Linked DNA regions of Homo sapiens: region 2 is linked to region 1. Evidence: fine-mapped expression QTL. A gene starts in region 1. The other region holds a variant in brackets. All regions are shown on one strand. Distances are between the middles of the regions. Region 1 holds the start of CD4 (CD4 molecule). Region 2 holds the start of GPR162 (G protein-coupled receptor 162).

Region 1 (8,323 bases):
GGCTGCAGTGAGCTGTGACCGTGCCACTGCACTGCAGCCTGGGTGACAGAACGAGACCTTGTCTAAGAAAACAAAAAACTCTTCAAGCCTCAGTTTCCTCATCTGTATGGCCTGGACAATAATACCTATGTCTTATCACTCTCATGAGGATTAAATAAAAGATACAACCACATAAAGCACACAACAATGCCAAATGTTTACTATAAACTCACCCTCTCTCTTCCTTTTTTCTTTTCCTGTTTGGAAACCCCAGAGAGAGAGCCAGGTTCTCAGGACCGTTGACTTCCAGGCCACAGACTCACAGAGCTGCAAGTTCTCACACCGTCCATCGGGTCTGGAATCTGCAAACCGGTGGGCCCAAAGCTAGAGCCAGCCCTTGGAATGCTCTGTTTGCTCTACCCAGTGTCACGACAAGTTGAAAAAATTTGTTACCAATATTAAAATCAGGAGGTATTACATAAATGTCTGGTTTTCACCTTCTCTAGAAATTTTGGCAGAGCAGGCAACTCTAGGCTCACATGCCAGTATAGCCTCTACGGTCAACTCAGACAGCTATGCAGGGAATGGCTGCCCTTAACTAGCTGAGGCAAGTACTCTCTGGTTTCCCCCAGTCCCTACCCTTCCCTTTTGGTCACCACCAGTGTACCTTTCTCATTTGCACTACCTAGGGGGCTCCTGTAAGCATTTACATTTGTAGCCCTGCTCTCCTGCTCTTGTCCATACTTCTCTATTTATCCATTCAAAAATTATTTGGCCTGGTGCAGTGGCTCACGCCTATAATCCCAGCACTTTGGGAGGCAGAGGCAGGAGAATCACTTGAGGTCAGGAGTTCGAGACCAGCCTGGCCAACATGGTGAAACCCTGTCTGTACTAAAAATACAAAAATTAGCCAGGCTTGGTGGCGCACGCCTGTAATCCCAGATACTCGGGAGTCTGAGGCAGGAGATTCGCTTGAACCTGGGAGGCGGAGGTTGCAGTGAGCCGAGATCACACCACTGCACTCGAGCCTCGGCGACAGAGCAAGACTCTGTTTCCAAAAAAAAAAGAAAAGAAAAAAGAAAAAAAAATATTATTCAATAGCCAGGAGTTGCAGGGAGTTAGAATGAGGAGTCAGTATTTAATGGGTACAGAGTTTCATTTGGGGAAGATGAAAAATTTCTAGATGGTTACACAACCATGTGAGTGTACTCAGTCCCACAGAGCAGTACATTAAAAAATGCCTAAAATGGCCGGGTGTGGTGACTCACACCTGTAATCCCAACACTTTGGGAGGCCAAGGTGAGCAGATCACTTGAGGTCAGGAATTCGAGACCAGCCTGGCCAACATGGTGAAACCCCGTCTTTACTAAAAATACAAAAATTAGCCAGGCGTGGTGGCGGGCACCTGTAGTCCCAGCTACTCGGGAGGCTGAGGCTGGAGAATCGCTTGAACCCAGGAGGTGGAGGTTGCAGTGAACCTAGATTGTGCCACTGCACTCCAGCCTGGGGGACAGAGTAAGACTCCGTCTTGGAAAAAAAAAAAAAAAAAGCTTAAAATGGAAAATCTTATGTTGCGTGTATTTTACCGCAATAAATTTAATATCAATAAAATTTAATATATTAGGAAAATATTAAACAAGCATTAAGGGTCTTCCAGGGCCAAGGCATCTGTGAGGGTGCTGGGAACATAGTGCTAACTAAGACAGACACGGTCACCGCTCTGGCCTGTGAGCTAGACACTAAGCAGCAAATAACTTCATTGCAACTGGAAAATTGCTACGAAGGGAGAAGCACAGGGGACTGGGAGATCTTATCACAAGGAAAACTGATTTCAACTGAGGAACCTGAGTATCCTCTGAGACTCTGGGGAGGAAGTCCTGTGCAGGAGAATGGTAGAGCAACAAAATATAAACAGCCCCAATCTTGGCCCTGGAGGACGGCGTGCTGCTCCCTCTCTTCTGCACCACCCACCTCCACACTTCCTACATGTGAAAAATAACTTCAATCTTGTTGAAGCCTCTATTATTTTGGGTTTTCTTTTGCTTGTAGCAGAACCCAGTGCTTACCGATAGACAATTCTCCCAGTTGAAAGAAGGTTCTTTTGTGATAAGATCTCCCAGCACCTTGTGCTTTTTCCTTTGTAGCGCTTGTCGAATTGTAATGAAGTTGTTCGTTGTTTAGTGTCTATGTCATAAGCTGGAGTGGTGACCATATCTGTCTTCTTCAACATCACATCCCCAGCTACCTAGCAGAGTGCCTTGGGCTGGTACACGCTTAACTACGTACATGAATGAATGGAGCAGGGCTCAAAACATCAATGCCTACCAGAGCCTGCCAGGTAATGTAAATGAGAAAAGCAGACTGGCTGTGAACAATAGGGAGGGTGTTTGCTTTCTAGTCTGAAGGAAGAAGGCCTGAGGAGGATACATTTTCCCCACTTTGAGGAGCAACTCTGAGGTTGCACCTAATACTTTCACTTCTATCTATTAACCAAAATTGAGTCACTTGGACACATCCAGCTGTGAGGGAGGCTGGGAAGTATATTTTAAATCTGGGTAGCTAAGAGCTCAGCTAAAAATTGAGGGTTCTATTACCAAGAAGGAGAAAATAGACTTTGGGGACAGCTAAAGCGATAGCTGAGATCTGAAGAATGAATAAAAATTACCTAGATCAGTGGTTCTCAGAGTGAAGTGTGGCCTGCAGACCCTTGGGAGTCCCTGAGACCCTTTCAGGGGATCTTCAAGGTCAAGCTATTTTCATAAAAAAATACAGGATGTTATTTTCCTTTGTCACTATGTTGACATTGCAATAATGTTGCAAAAACAATCTGGATAAAACTGCTGCCTTAGCATAAATGAAGGCAGTGGTGCCAAACCATATGATAGTCATTGCATTCTTCACTGCCAGGTACTTACAGTAAAAAAAGAAAAAAAATTAATGCCACTTTTACTTAAGAATGCCCTTAATGAGGCCGGGCGCAGTGGCTCGTGCCTGTAATCCCAGCACTTTGGGAGGCCGAAGCGGGCAGATCAGGATCACCTGAGGTCAGGAGTTCAAGACCAGCCTGGCCAACGAGTGAAACCCTGTCTCTACAAAAATACAAAAATTAGCCAGGCATGTTGGCGGGTGCCTGTAATCCCAGCTACTCGGGAGGCTGAGGCAGGAGAATGGCTTGAATCCAGGAGGCGGAGGTTGTAGTAAGCCGAAATCATGCTGCTGCACTTCAGCCTGGATGACAAAGCAAGACTCTGTCTCAAAAAAAAAAAAAAAAAAAAGAGAGATCAAGACCATCCTGGGCAACATGGTGAAACCCCATCTCTACTAAAGATACAAAAATTAGCTGGGCATTGTGGCGCATGCCTGTAGCCCCAGCTACTTGGGAGGCTGAGGCAGGAGAATTGCTTGAACCCGGGAGGCAGAGGTTGCAGTGAGCCAAGATCACGCCACTGCACTCTAGCCTGGGCAACAGAGTGAGACTCCCTCTCAAAAAAAAAAAAAAAAAAAAATATATATATATATATATATAGAATGCCTTTAATGAAGCAGTAAATACTAATTTTATTAAATCTCAACCCTTGAGTACGGTGTGTCATGAAATGAGAAGTAGCACACAGTACTATATGCTACAGATGAAGTACAATGCTGTCAAATAGGGGTACTTGTGTTAATTGTTGGAGTCGCAAGCTGAACTAGAGTTTTCTTTTCTTTTCTTTTCTTTTCTTCTTTTCAAGACAGGTTCTCACTCTGTCACTCAGGCTAGAGTGCAGTGGTGCAATCACGGTTCACTGCAGCCTCAACTTCCTGGGCTCAAGCGATCCCCCCACCTCGGCCTCCTAAAATGCTGGGATTATAGGCATGAGCCACCACTCCCAGCCCCACTTTTTTCAGACTGGAAAACGCACACTCACATGTGCATCTTTAAATGATCACTTGGGCTGTGGTATGGAGAATGGCGACCAGTGAGGAGGCAGGAGCTGTTGTCCGAGCAAGGGATGATATTGGCATCTTGGATTGGCATGGTGGCAGTAGTGGTAGTGCAGAGTGACTTGGGTAGATTTTGGAGCCATTTAGAAGGTAACATCCACAGGAACTGGTAAATAAATACGTGGGAGAAGTTGGGTGAAGGGGGTGTCAAAGATTACACCCAATTTATTTTGCTTGGGCAAGTTGGTGGATGGTGAGCCCCTCACTGAGTGAGAAGCCTGGAGAAGCAGGTTTGGAGGGTGGTAGTATGCAGGTGGTATGCATAGTTGGGGATGTGTGTTGAGTTTGCTATGTCCGGTGAGCTTCCCAGTGGAGATGTCCAATGGGCAGACGGATACTCACATAGAGAGTTCATGGTAGATTCGGGCTAGAGGAAAGCACCTGAGGCCTGGCCAGAGACGCCTAGAGGAACAGAGCCTGGTTAACAGTCACTCCTGGTGTCTCAGATATTCTCTGCTCAGCCCACGCCCTCTCTTCCACACTGGGCCACCTATAAAGCCTCCACAGATACCCCTGGGGCACCCACTGGACACATGCCCTCAGGGCCCCAGAGCAAGGAGCTGTTTGTGGGCTTACCACTGCTGTTCCCATATGCCCCCAACTGCCTCCCACTTCTTTCCCCACAGCCTGGTCAGACATGGCGCTACCACTAATGGAATCTTTCTTGCCATCTTTTTCTTGCCGCTTAACAGTGGCAGTGACAGTTTGACTCCTGATTTAAGCCTGATTCTGCTTAACTTTTTCCCTTGACTTTGGCATTTTCACTTTGACATGTTCCCTGAGAGCCTGGGGGGTGGGGAACCCAGCTCCAGCTGGTGACGTTTGGGGCCGGCCCAGGCCTAGGGTGTGGAGGAGCCTTGCCATCGGGCTTCCTGTCTCTCTTCATTTAAGCACGACTCTGCAGAAGGAACAAAGCACCCTCCCCACTGGGCTCCTGGTTGCAGAGCTCCAAGTCCTCACACAGATACGCCTGTTTGAGAAGCAGCGGGCAAGAAAGACGCAAGCCCAGAGGTAAGGTGGTCAGACTCGGCTTCCTTCCCCGGAGCTGAGAGGGAGGGGAACGTGGGGCAGATGCACAGGAATGTGCTCTGCCCAGTTGTCTGCCCACAGCTCTGGCCACCTTCTCTTGCATTTCTCTTGGAACTGGTCATGAGCAGCGATTTCCCACTGGAACTGTGAGCTTCCAGAGGTCAGAGACTGTGCTAGACTCCTCTCTGCAGCCCCAGCGTGCACAGCTCAGTGTCCAGAGCAATGGGTGCTCCTTAGAGGAGTAGTGACCTAAATAGCAAGATCAGAGAGGGAGTGAAGACTGGAGACTATCCCAGGCTGGGAAAGGCGTGGAAGGCAACTAGTCGTGGGCAGTTGAGGGGAGAAGACTGGAAGAGGGGAAAAGAGGAGAAAAAGAGTGAAGAAGGGGAGGGAAAAAATTAGAAAGAATAAATAAATATAAGGTGGGAGGAAACCTATAAAAAAGAAATGATGAGGAAAAACATAAAAACAAGAAAAAGAGCAAAAGAAGTGGAATCTAGTCTAGAGAAAATTCTTGCAAAACCAATTTTCCTTAACGGGACAATCTCCAAAAATTGACACCAAATATCATACTTGCAGCATTTCATAAGTCGCATGATCTATGTAATAGTCTCTTTTAACTACCTTTTGTGTTTCTGTGTGTATTTTTAAATTTTTGTCTGCTTCTTTGCTCTTTTAAGATTTTTGAACAATGTCTAAAGGCACTTCTACTCTAGTTAGCTTTAAAATGATTCATGAAATAGGAAAGCTAAAATTCTCAGAAAGTGTTGAAACTGAGCTTTTGCGTATGAATTGCCCTAAAAGTTGCAGATACATATCTTTAGATAAATATGTCATTTAAGAAACGGATTCGAAAAGAATTGGTGGTAGGGGTCTCATGAGGCCGGGAGAGTTACAGAAGGATGTGCAGCCCCTCCTGGGCCTGGCAGGGTGTGAGGGAGAGTGAGGACTCACTGTCCCTCCTGAAGGGAAGCCCTGTGCCATCTCAGCCTTTCCGCCCTCAGACCTTTCCAGCCCCTGAGACCTCATGGCCTTGAAGCCGTGCTATCCCCAGTGTCCTCTGCTTTCCCCTCATAGGCTTCTTCTGGGAGAGAGGTTTCCTGGGGTACGTTCTGATCCCTCAAAACGGAAAGGCCCTGTTCTCAATAATTCAAAGATTTCACTCTGAGTGGGATAGTGCTTCCTGAATGCCCTGCTCTTGTGGTGGACATTTTTATCGGGGCAAGGCTAAGAGCAGGGCCTGATGGGGGAAGTCACTGCTACTTCACATTTTGACCAATAATTCCTTGTGCTGTATCAGATGCTGTAGGCTGATACAAAATGGCCGCCGCCCTCAAAGTCAGATGAAAGAGCCCCTGAGGACAGCGTTAGAGACACTCGGGAGATGATTTCCCTCTTTCAATGTGGGAGCACTTACATAGGAGAGGTCTATATCTAGATAAAAACTCCTCCCACCACTGGTGCTAGACAGAGCTTGGGGGCAGCCCTAGGCTCTGACCCTGGCCGTAATGGCGGGGTGGTGCTGAGGGCAATTGGCTAGACCAATTGTCTTGCACGTTTTATTTTTTATTATTATTTTTGAGACGGAGTCTCGCTCTCTTGCCCAGGCTGGAGTGCAATGACGTGATCTCCACTCACTGCAGCCTCCACCTCCTGGGTTCAAGCGATTCTCCTGCCTCAGCCTCTTGAGTAGCTGGGATTACAGGAGCCCAACACCACGCCCGGCTACTTTTTGTATTTTTAGTAGAGACCAGGTTTCACTATGTTGGACAGGCTGGCCTCAAACTCCTGGCCTCAAATGATCCGCCCGCCTTGGCCTCCCAAAGTGCTGGCATTACAGACGTGAGCCACCATACTGGGCCAGTCTTGCACATTTTAGACACTCAATAAATGTTTGTTGAATGAAATACCTGTGATGGGCCGGGCGTGGTGGCCCACACCAGTAATCCCAGCCCTTTGAGAGGCCGAGGCAGGAGGATGGCTTGAACCTGGGAGTTTGAGACCAGCCTGGGCAACATGGTGAAACCCCCATCTCTACAAACCCCACAAAAGTTAGCTGGGCATGGTAGTGTGTGCCTGTGGTTCCAGCTACTTGGGAAGCTGAGGTGGGAGGATTGCTTGAGCCTGGGAGACGGAGGCTGCAGTGAGGCCTGACTGTGCCACTGCACTCCAGCCTGGGCGAGAGTGAGGCCCTGTCTCAAAATAACTTTGATGAAGGTGGGGAATCAGAAGTAGGTGGGCAGGGGTCTGGGTTTGCAAGGCTCTGAGTTTGAGCTCTGTTCTGTACCTTTGAGGGGATGAGGGAAGGAGGGTGGGCACGGTTCCCCCGATGTGGGTGTCTGAGGCGAAGAAGAGGATGGCGGAGGTTGCAGCCACCAACCACAAGAGTTCCTTAGAGGGGTCACAGTCTCTAGGAAGTTTATAGGAAGCTAGTCAGCAGTAGAGAGGGTGAACGCGGTGGGGCACATCCCGCGGCTGGGCTTGAGTGGGCTGCTTGGGGGTTATGGGGAGAAGATAAAAGTGCCTGTGGGACCACAGACTCTCGCTGTGGTGGAGCTGGGCCCTCTTACCCTCCCAAGCCTCGCCCCTCATCCCATCCCTGGGGGCCAGGGGTGAGGGCGGCAGGAACCTCAAGGCTCTGAGAAAGTGCGTGGTGTGTGTTGCCATTTTGGTCTCTTCTCTTTCTCAGTCTCTCTTTGCCTCACTTTGGATCTATGCTCTGTGCATCTGTCTTGCTTCTCAGAATTTCTTCTTTTCCTCTTTTTTTGTACTACCCTGCGCTTTGTGTGTGATTGTGGATTGTGTGTGCATAGCTGTTGCTTTAACAAGCTGCTCCAGGTCTCTCTCTCCCACATCTTTCCCTCCCCTCCTCCCTTGAGGCTCTGTGCATTCTGGGGAACTCTGTCCATTTCCCTTTGTCCATGTGTCCCTCCCACCCTGCAGCCGGCTCCCTCACATCCACCCTGGGCTGCAGGCGTGCTCGGCAGGCTCCCCACAGATCAAAGCTTGTCCAGGGTCTGCATTGCTGCCAAAGGCCAGGAGGACTGTGTACAGACCGGAAGGAGCTAGAGCTTAGTGGCAGCCTGAGAGGGGAAGCTGAAAAAGGAGAAGAGGCAAGGGGCATTCCAGGGGAGCCCGGGAGAGCCAGCACGGCCGCCTGGTATATGAGGCAAAGAGGAAGACAGACACAGACACAGGGAGCTGCAGGCTGGGGGCATAAGCTGGGGGCTGGGAAGCATAGATACAGAAATGCACAGATGTGAGCTGAGAAGCAAGGAGGGAGAGAGAGAGACAGAAAGAGAGAGAGAGACGTGCCAGGGCTTGAGGGACC
Region 2 (8,323 bases), 31 kb after region 1:
CAAGGATCCCCTGTGGCTGGGCTGCTCTGTGATGGCTTCCGGGAGGAGGGAGGTGGCCTGCTGTAGGAAAATGCTGGGTGGAAGAAGGGAGAGAAGGCTGGAGAGGTAGGAAGGAACTGAAGTATCTGAAGTGACAAGGTGGGTGTCTGGACTCGTCGGGTCCCCTTCCATCTCCCTGCTGCCTCCACATGCCAACCCCACTCGTGCACCCTCATCTTCCTATCTCCTCACCCAGGGTCTCTCCCTTCCCACCTCCAGCTTTCCAGAAGGCCTCCAGCATAGTCTATAAGAAAGAGGGGGAACAGGTGGAGTTCTCCTTCCCACTCGCCTTTACAGTTGAAAAGCTGACGGGCAGTGGCGAGCTGTGGTGGCAGGCGGAGAGGGCTTCCTCCTCCAAGTCTTGGATCACCTTTGACCTGAAGAACAAGGAAGTGTCTGTAAAACGGGTTACCCAGGACCCTAAGCTCCAGATGGGCAAGAAGCTCCCGCTCCACCTCACCCTGCCCCAGGCCTTGCCTCAGTATGCTGGCTCTGGAAACCTCACCCTGGCCCTTGAAGCGAAAACAGGAAAGTTGCATCAGGAAGTGAACCTGGTGGTGATGAGAGGTGAGGGGCCAGGCCAGGGAGGGGTGGGCAGGGGAAGGAGTTGGAGGGGCCTGGCCCAGGGCTCCCTCTGAGGCAAGCCAGGCCCCAAGAGGGGATGCCTAGGCCCTGGTCACCTGGATGAAGTGAGGGAGGGCCCTCTGGGTTTGGGGCTGGTTTTGAACTGAGACATCCATGAGCCAGCCTGGGGCTGGCTTCACTGAAGATCCCCAAAGCACTTGGGCTAAGAACCAGGGTTCCAGTTCTTCCTATAACCAACCCTCTGTGACCCTGGCTAAGCCCCCTCCCACTGCAGGCCTGCTTCCTGACCTGTCTAATAAGGATAATGAAATCTGCTCTCTGTGTGATAGTAATGATGATAATGTCAAGCTCCAAATTGAGTTTCTGGCTTCCTTATCTCCTTATCATCATAACGACTCTGCAAATAGTAATGGCTAACACTTGATGCTCAGCACGTGTCGGGCCCCATCCAAACACTTTACATGTATGCCTGCCTTTAGTACTATCTGGGTGCAGGTTGTTAAGTCACTTGCCCAGAGACACACAGCTGCTAAGCAGTGGAGCTGGGATTCAAATCCAATACCACTGGACCCCAAACGCTGTTTTTCCTCGTAGGACTGCATGAAAACCTGCTCTAAAAGGCTAAAAGAAGGTCACCCATATAGAGTATCATTTTAATTGTTCTACTGAATCTCAGGCCTTTGATCTCAGCCTCTCGTTCCTCTGCAGCCACTCAGCTCCAGAAAAATTTGACCTGTGAGGTGTGGGGACCCACCTCCCCTAAGCTGATGCTGAGTTTGAAACTGGAGAACAAGGAGGCAAAGGTCTCGAAGCGGGAGAAGGCGGTGTGGGTGCTGAACCCTGAGGCGGGGATGTGGCAGTGTCTGCTGAGTGACTCGGGACAGGTCCTGCTGGAATCCAACATCAAGGGTAAGGACCCAGGTTCCAAGGCCTCTGCCTCCTGGGCTGCGGGACCTTCCTGTGGTTGGCAGAGACCACCCAGAGTCCCGGCCTCCCAATGCCTGAGTTGGGGGGTTATGGGTATGGTGTCCTCTGTGGTCCCAGGGTGCTTTGGAGGCCCCAAAAGGAGGCATAGAAGTGATGAAGTGAGGTGGGTTGTGGTCCTGGGCTCTAGGCTGCCAGTTGTAATTCTACAAGTTCCCACTCCCTCAGGTCTACAGCCTAGGGATGGGGTCCACCTGACCGAGAGCCCCCCTCCCTGGCTCCTGGCTTTTCTCCAAATCCAGACGCACTTACACACACACTCACACACATACACTCTCACACACATGCACACACTCCCATACACTCTCACACACGCACACACATCACTCACACACTCGCACACACTCATACACACACTACACACACATCCACACTCACACCCACACTCTCACCCCATGTACTCACACCCATGCACTCACACACTGTCACACACTCATACACACACATGTACTCACACATGCATGCACACACACACTTACACATTCACGCACATACTCTCACCCACACACTGTCGTACACGTACACTCACACACTTATACACTCACATCCGCACACGCATTATTCACACATGTGCACACACGCGCGCGCACATGCATGCAGTCACGCACACACATTCATACACGCACACAGGCACACATTCACACACATGCACACACGCACACACATTCACACATGGACTCACACGCGCACACGCGCGCACACACACACATTCACACCATTCACACACGCACACACATGCACACACTCACACATGCACACACACATGCACTCACACACACAGCCCAGGAGCCAGACCACAGCTTCTCTCTCTCCAGAGTGCCCTGGATATGGATATGCCCAAACATAAAACCGATTCCCCAGCACTGGCGGCCTTTGAGAGCCCCCAGGCACCCCTCCCCTCTCCCCCAACCCCAGGGTCAAACCAGAGACTGGCCAGGAGGGATTGCAGGGCAGTCCTCAGTCCCCTGGCCCGTGGAGGAGGGCGGTGCATTGAGCACATTTCTCTCCCTTGCAGTTCTGCCCACATGGTCCACCCCGGTGCAGCCAATGGCCCTGATTGTGCTGGGGGGCGTCGCCGGCCTCCTGCTTTTCATTGGGCTAGGCATCTTCTTCTGTGTCAGGTGCCGGCACCGAAGGGTGAGTAACCCCACACCTGGTCCCCACAAGGCCCTCAAACCCCTGAGTCCTCTACCAGGAGATCCTGTATATGGGAACTGATTTTGGCCCAGCTCCCTCTGCCCACTCGTAAGTTCCCTTGCTGCCCTGTCCCAGATCCCACTCAAGGGAGAGACAGGAAGGAGCAGAGAGTTAATTCCAGGATAGATGGCCTGGGCCATGTAACTGCTTCTCCTGTCGCAGCTTCCCCCACTCCCCCCACCAAGGGGCACCTCCCTTCTGGAGGCCTGGGACCCTCGTGACTCCCTTTCTTGTCCCTGGACAGCGCCAAGCAGAGCGGATGTCTCAGATCAAGAGACTCCTCAGTGAGAAGAAGACCTGCCAGTGTCCTCAGTAAGGATCTGGGAGGAGGGGTTGAGAGAGGGGAAAGGGGGAGGGGGAGGGAGTTAGAGAGGAGGGGGAGGAAGGGGAGCAAAGGGGGGCAGGAAGGGAGGATGGAGAGGAGGAAGGAGTTGAGGAGGAAGAGCTGGGAGGGGTGGAGGTGAGGAGATGGGGGCTAAAGGGGTGTGGTGGAGAGGATAGAGGGGTGGGAAAAGATGGCCAGGAGCTAGAAGGAGGCAGAAGTGGGAGGATGGAGCTGAAGGAGCAGCAGGCCAGGAAAGGCCCTGCTGGAAAGCCACTGGAGCTGTGCTGCGCTGGAAAGGCCATTGGAGGTGCTAGAACGCAAAGGGGTTGCAGTGGGGACAGACCTGCTCCCCTTCTTCTTTGTTCCTGCAGCCGGTTTCAGAAGACATGTAGCCCCATTTGAGGCACGAGGCCAGGCAGATCCCACTTGCAGCCTCCCCAGGTGTCTGCCCCGCGTTTCCTGCCTGCGGACCAGA[T/A]GAATGTAGCAGATCCCCAGCCTCTGGCCTCCTGTTCGCCTCCTCTACAATTTGCCATTGTTTCTCCTGGGTTAGGCCCCGGCTTCACTGGTTGAGTGTTGCTCTCTAGTTTCCAGAGGCTTAATCACACCGTCCTCCACGCCATTTCCTTTTCCTTCAAGCCTAGCCCTTCTCTCATTATTTCTCTCTGACCCTCTCCCCACTGCTCATTTGGATCCCAGGGGAGTGTTCAGGGCCAGCCCTGGCTGGCATGGAGGGTGAGGCTGGGTGTCTGGAAGCATGGAGCATGGGACTGTTCTTTTACAAGACAGGACCCTGGGACCACAGAGGGCAGGAACTTGCACAAAATCACACAGCCAAGCCAGTCAAGGATGGATGCAGATCCAGAGGTTTCTGGCAGCCAGTACCTCCTGCCCCATGCTGCCCGCTTCTCACCCTATGTGGGTGGGACCACAGACTCACATCCTGACCTTGCACAAACAGCCCCTCTGGACACAGCCCCATGTACACGGCCTCAAGGGATGTCTCACATCCTCTGTCTATTTGAGACTTAGAAAAATCCTACAAGGCTGGCAGTGACAGAACTAAGATGATCATCTCCAGTTTATAGACCAGAACCAGAGCTCAGAGAGGCTAGATGATTGATTACCAAGTGCCGGACTAGCAAGTGCTGGAGTCGGGACTAACCCAGGTCCCTTGTCCCAAGTTCCACTGCTGCCTCTTGAATGCAGGGACAAATGCCACACGGCTCTCACCAGTGGCTAGTGGTGGGTACTCAATGTGTACTTTTGGGTTCACAGAAGCACAGCACCCATGGGAAGGGTCCATCTCAGAGAATTTACGAGCAGGGATGAAGGCCTCCCTGTCTAAAATCCCTCCTTCATCCCCCGCTGGTGGCAGAATCTGTTACCAGAGGACAAAGCCTTTGGCTCTTCTAATCAGAGCGCAAGCTGGGAGCACAGGCACTGCAGGAGAGAATGCCCAGTGACCAGTCACTGACCCTGTGCAGAACCTCCTGGAAGCGAGCTTTGCTGGGAGAGGGGGTAGCTAGCCTGAGAGGGAACCCTCTAAGGGACCTCAAAGGTGATTGTGCCAGGCTCTGCGCCTGCCCCACACCCTCCCTTACCCTCCTCCAGACCATTCAGGACACAGGGAAATCAGGGTTACAAATCTTCTTGATCCACTTCTCTCAGGATCCCCTCTCTTCCTACCCTTCCTCACCACTTCCCTCAGTCCCAACTCCTTTTCCCTATTTCCTTCTCCTCCTGTCTTTAAAGCCTGCCTCTTCCAGGAAGACCCCCCTATTGCTGCTGGGGCTCCCCATTTGCTTACTTTGCATTTGTGCCCACTCTCCACCCCTGCTCCCCTGAGCTGAAATAAAAATACAATAAACTTACTATAAAGATGCTCTTCGTGTGTGTGTGTGTGTGTGTGTGTGTGTGTGTGTGTGTGTGAGAGAGAGAGAGAGAGAGAGACCCCTTCTCTGGGGACCAGGAATCTTCTGGTCTTTGGGGTCGGACCCAGAGGAGAGGTTGCTGGGCGTGCCCCAGGAAGGAGATGAAGTTTCCCTGGAGAGGGAAAAATTCTGTGGAGGCTGGCTACCCACCTCCACAACCCACAGGGCTCTGTGTGGGCCTGTGTGTGTGTGAGGCTGAGACTCTGTAATTACATGTGTGTGATATACCGTGGGGGAGAGACTCAGGGTTGTGTGAGCTCTCCTGGTGTATGTGTGTGGCAGAGAAAAAGGACTATGAGAAACTGTAACATGTGTGTGCAAATTGTATCCCCAACATATGTGTTTGTGTTCCAGGAGGAGGAGGCAGAGTGTGTGTGTCTGTGTGCATGCATGCGCCCACATCCTTTTAGCTTGTGCACAACCACCCCCAACTCCACAAGCAGCCCCAGTGTGCACCACAAGCCCCCTCACTCCCAAACCCAAGGCCCAGCCCTCACACAGATACACACAGTGACACACGCTTCCTCCTCCCCGAACAGCTAGCTCCTCAGTCCCCAACAACACCAGCTGCCTCTTGGAGCTTGTGTTCGTGTTGAAAACGGGAAGGGGTGGGGGCAGGACATGAACCATTTCACCAATGAAGCCGGTTCCCAGCCATCCTCCTCACCGCCCTCCCTCTCAGCGCCTTCCTTGCCCCTCCTCCCCGAGTCACCACCGTCCAGTTCCCCACCCTGCACTCGTTTCCCGCCCCCCCCCGCCCCCCACAAAGCTGTCCTGCCTTCCCTCTGGCCTGGGCTCACTGGCAGGACGACCCCGGGAGAGAGGGTCCTGGAGAGTGAGAGGGGCAGAGACCGAGTGAGCCGTGGGCTGAGCCTGGGAGGCCGGGACTGAGGGGGAGGAGGGAGGCCCGGGGGAAGGGAGGGAGGGAGAGAGGGAAGGAGGGAGGAGGGCGGGCGAGCTGGAGCCGGCAGGCAGCGGGAGCCCGAGAGAGCCGCGTCGGGAGTGCGGTCTCCATGGCAGTGCTGGGCGCAGCCGGAGAGAGGTAAGACGACCCCTGCCTGCCCCGTCCCCTGTGTTGCCTCCCTTTCCCCCTCAAGCTGCCTCCTCTCCCCTAGGCCGGCCCCTCCTCCCCAGCCACCTGCTGTTTCTGCCCTGGAGAACCTGGAGGGGGACAGGAGGGAGGAGCCGCCTGACCTTACCCCTTCACCCCAAAGGGCGAGGGACCCCGTCGGCCAGGGAACCTCCCAGATCCCCCTTCCCACCTTCCTCTGATCTCTCCCTGTCCTTCACCTCCCTCTCTCTGTCCTTCACATCTTTCCTGCCTCCTTCCCTCTCTGACTCCCTATCTCTTTCATCCTGAGCCCACCAGCTGGGCCTGGGTGGAGGTGGGTGGGAAGGGGTCCAGGGCTGTAGGAGAGGACACTGGGGGCTGCTCTTGGCCAAGTCCCTCCACCTCCCTCTGGCTGGCCATTGCCATGGCAACTAGGGTGTACTGGGCTCCGGAGGGAAGCCAAGGGTGGGGGTGGACCAGGACCTCTTGGGGAAAGCAAGGGTCTGAGCTGCTTCCATGGGAAACAGACCCTTTCACTGCTGTGCCCCATTTTTACCCCACTTACCCTAAAGCCATTATGTGCTTCCTTACAGCCCCACTCTGTTCAGGGTTTCACCCGATTCCCTTACCCCCCTTCCCAGGGCTCACTGAAGCTCAGCATCACGCACTAAAACTGGGACCATCCTTCCTCCCATGAGAGGGAAACTGAGGCTCTGGGCCAGGGAGGAAGAGTCAAGGTCTCCCCACGGGGAGTCAGCACCTTATTGAACATTTGGCTTTTCTTCTCAGCCTCCTATTCCCTGCTCCCTCCCTCCCTCCCTCCTCCAGTCCCTCCTCCCTCCAAAGCCTCCTCTCCAGGGGGTTTGAGCTTTTCCTGCTATTTTCAGATACTACCACTTTGCCCCCTCTTTCTCTTCTGCTCAAACTCTCCTCCTTCTCCCTAGTTCCCCCTCTTTCCATTTCTGGATGCTTCTGATGTCAGCGGTTTCCCCGCCTTCAGGTTCCCTAGCACCCCCTTCGGTCCCAGACTCCTTTCTCCCATTTTCCCAGATATGGGTAGCTGGAGGGTGATCACCCAGGTTTGGGGAAGTAGGGGCTAAGCACCAAGACCCCTGCATCCAGGAGACCGGCAGGTAGGGGAGGAAGGCTGTGATGCCATATCCCAGTTCACTGTGAACCCTCAAGAGGAAACCAGTCTTGTGTCTCCCATCAGTAGTTCTGAAGAGACATTTAGGGACTTGAAGATAGGGGTGGAGTAGTGCTGAGCAGGGGATGTTCTAAGAAGGAACCTGGGAGTTCCAGCGGGAGGAGGAAGGGCTAAAGGAGACAGGGAGGTGGGAATACCTTCTTCCCTAGAGGTCTGGAAGAGTGCGGCTCTCATCTGTGTGGGGTGTTTAGCTGTCAGAGTTAAGGCAAAGGAATGTTCTGAATGACCCTCAGGGCCTTAGTAATCAGTCATGCCTATAGTTTCAAGAAAGGGGGCACAGGAGGCTGATTGGAGACCAGCCCAGGCCCTACCTTTGCCCTCTCCCTCCCACATCTCATCTTTCCCTTGCAGCCTGTCCAGGGGGCTGAGCCCCACCCCCAAATCCCTGGGGCATCCAGAAGATTCCTGACTGGTCAAGAACCAGAGGCAAAAGAGACCTGGAAGTCCCAGCATGGGGACCAGAACCCCCCAGCCAGCCTCATAGTTGGGAAAGTAGCCAGCTTGCCTGCCCCATCAATTGCAGGGATGCTTAAGGAAGGCCCCGCCCAGTATGAAAGCTGAGGATTGCCTCTGCTGACCCTCAGTCTCCTCCCCTGCCCTCTACATCTGCCCTCAGCTGGGTCCATCATGCAATGCTGAGCACTGGGGTGAGCCTGGGGGCAGCCTGCCTGCTGACAGGGCGAGGATTGTGGGGATCATGGGAGTGTTTGTGAGTGGGGCTCCTGGGTGAGACCTAGCCCCCACCCCCACAGAGCTCAAGGGGGTGGGGGGCTGAGGATAGGATGGCTCGGGGCGGGGCGGGGGCAGAGGAGGCCTCCCTGCGCTCCAACGCATTGTCCTGGCTGGCCTGTGGGCTCCTGGCGCTGCTGGCCAATGCCTGGATCATCCTCAGCATCTCGGCCAAGCAGCAGAAGCACAAGCCACTGGAGCTGCTGCTCTGCTTCCTAGCGGGCACACACATACTCATGGCAGCTGTGCCCCTCACCACCTTTGCCGTGGTGCAG

The links. PIP is the estimated chance that this variant, and not a neighbour inherited with it, causes the effect.
Region 2: its variant is fine-mapped to the expression of CD4 in whole blood (TOPMed, PIP above 0.99).

Annotation. Positions count from the first base shown.
Region 1 is chr12:6,784,689-6,793,011 of GRCh38, forward strand. CD4 (CD4 molecule) reads left to right here and starts at 4,840. Exons shown (of 10, transcript NM_000616.5): 1 at 4,840-4,974. RefSeq lists a silencer at 2,095-2,389 and enhancers at 4,324-4,881, 4,697-4,746, 7,862-7,911.
Region 2 is chr12:6,815,798-6,824,120 of GRCh38, forward strand. It overlaps CD4 (CD4 molecule), which reads left to right. Exons shown (of 10, transcript NM_000616.5): 6 at 259-606; 7 at 1,333-1,533; 8 at 2,624-2,745; 9 at 3,050-3,117; 10 at 3,502-5,002. The coding sequence ends at 3,532. GPR162 (G protein-coupled receptor 162) reads left to right here and starts at 6,024. Exons shown (of 5, transcript NM_019858.2): 1 at 6,024-6,103; 2 at 7,671-8,323. The coding sequence starts at 8,102. RefSeq lists enhancers at 3,063-3,563, 3,564-4,064, 5,035-6,007. The variant T/A (reference allele first, on the strand shown) is at 3,606.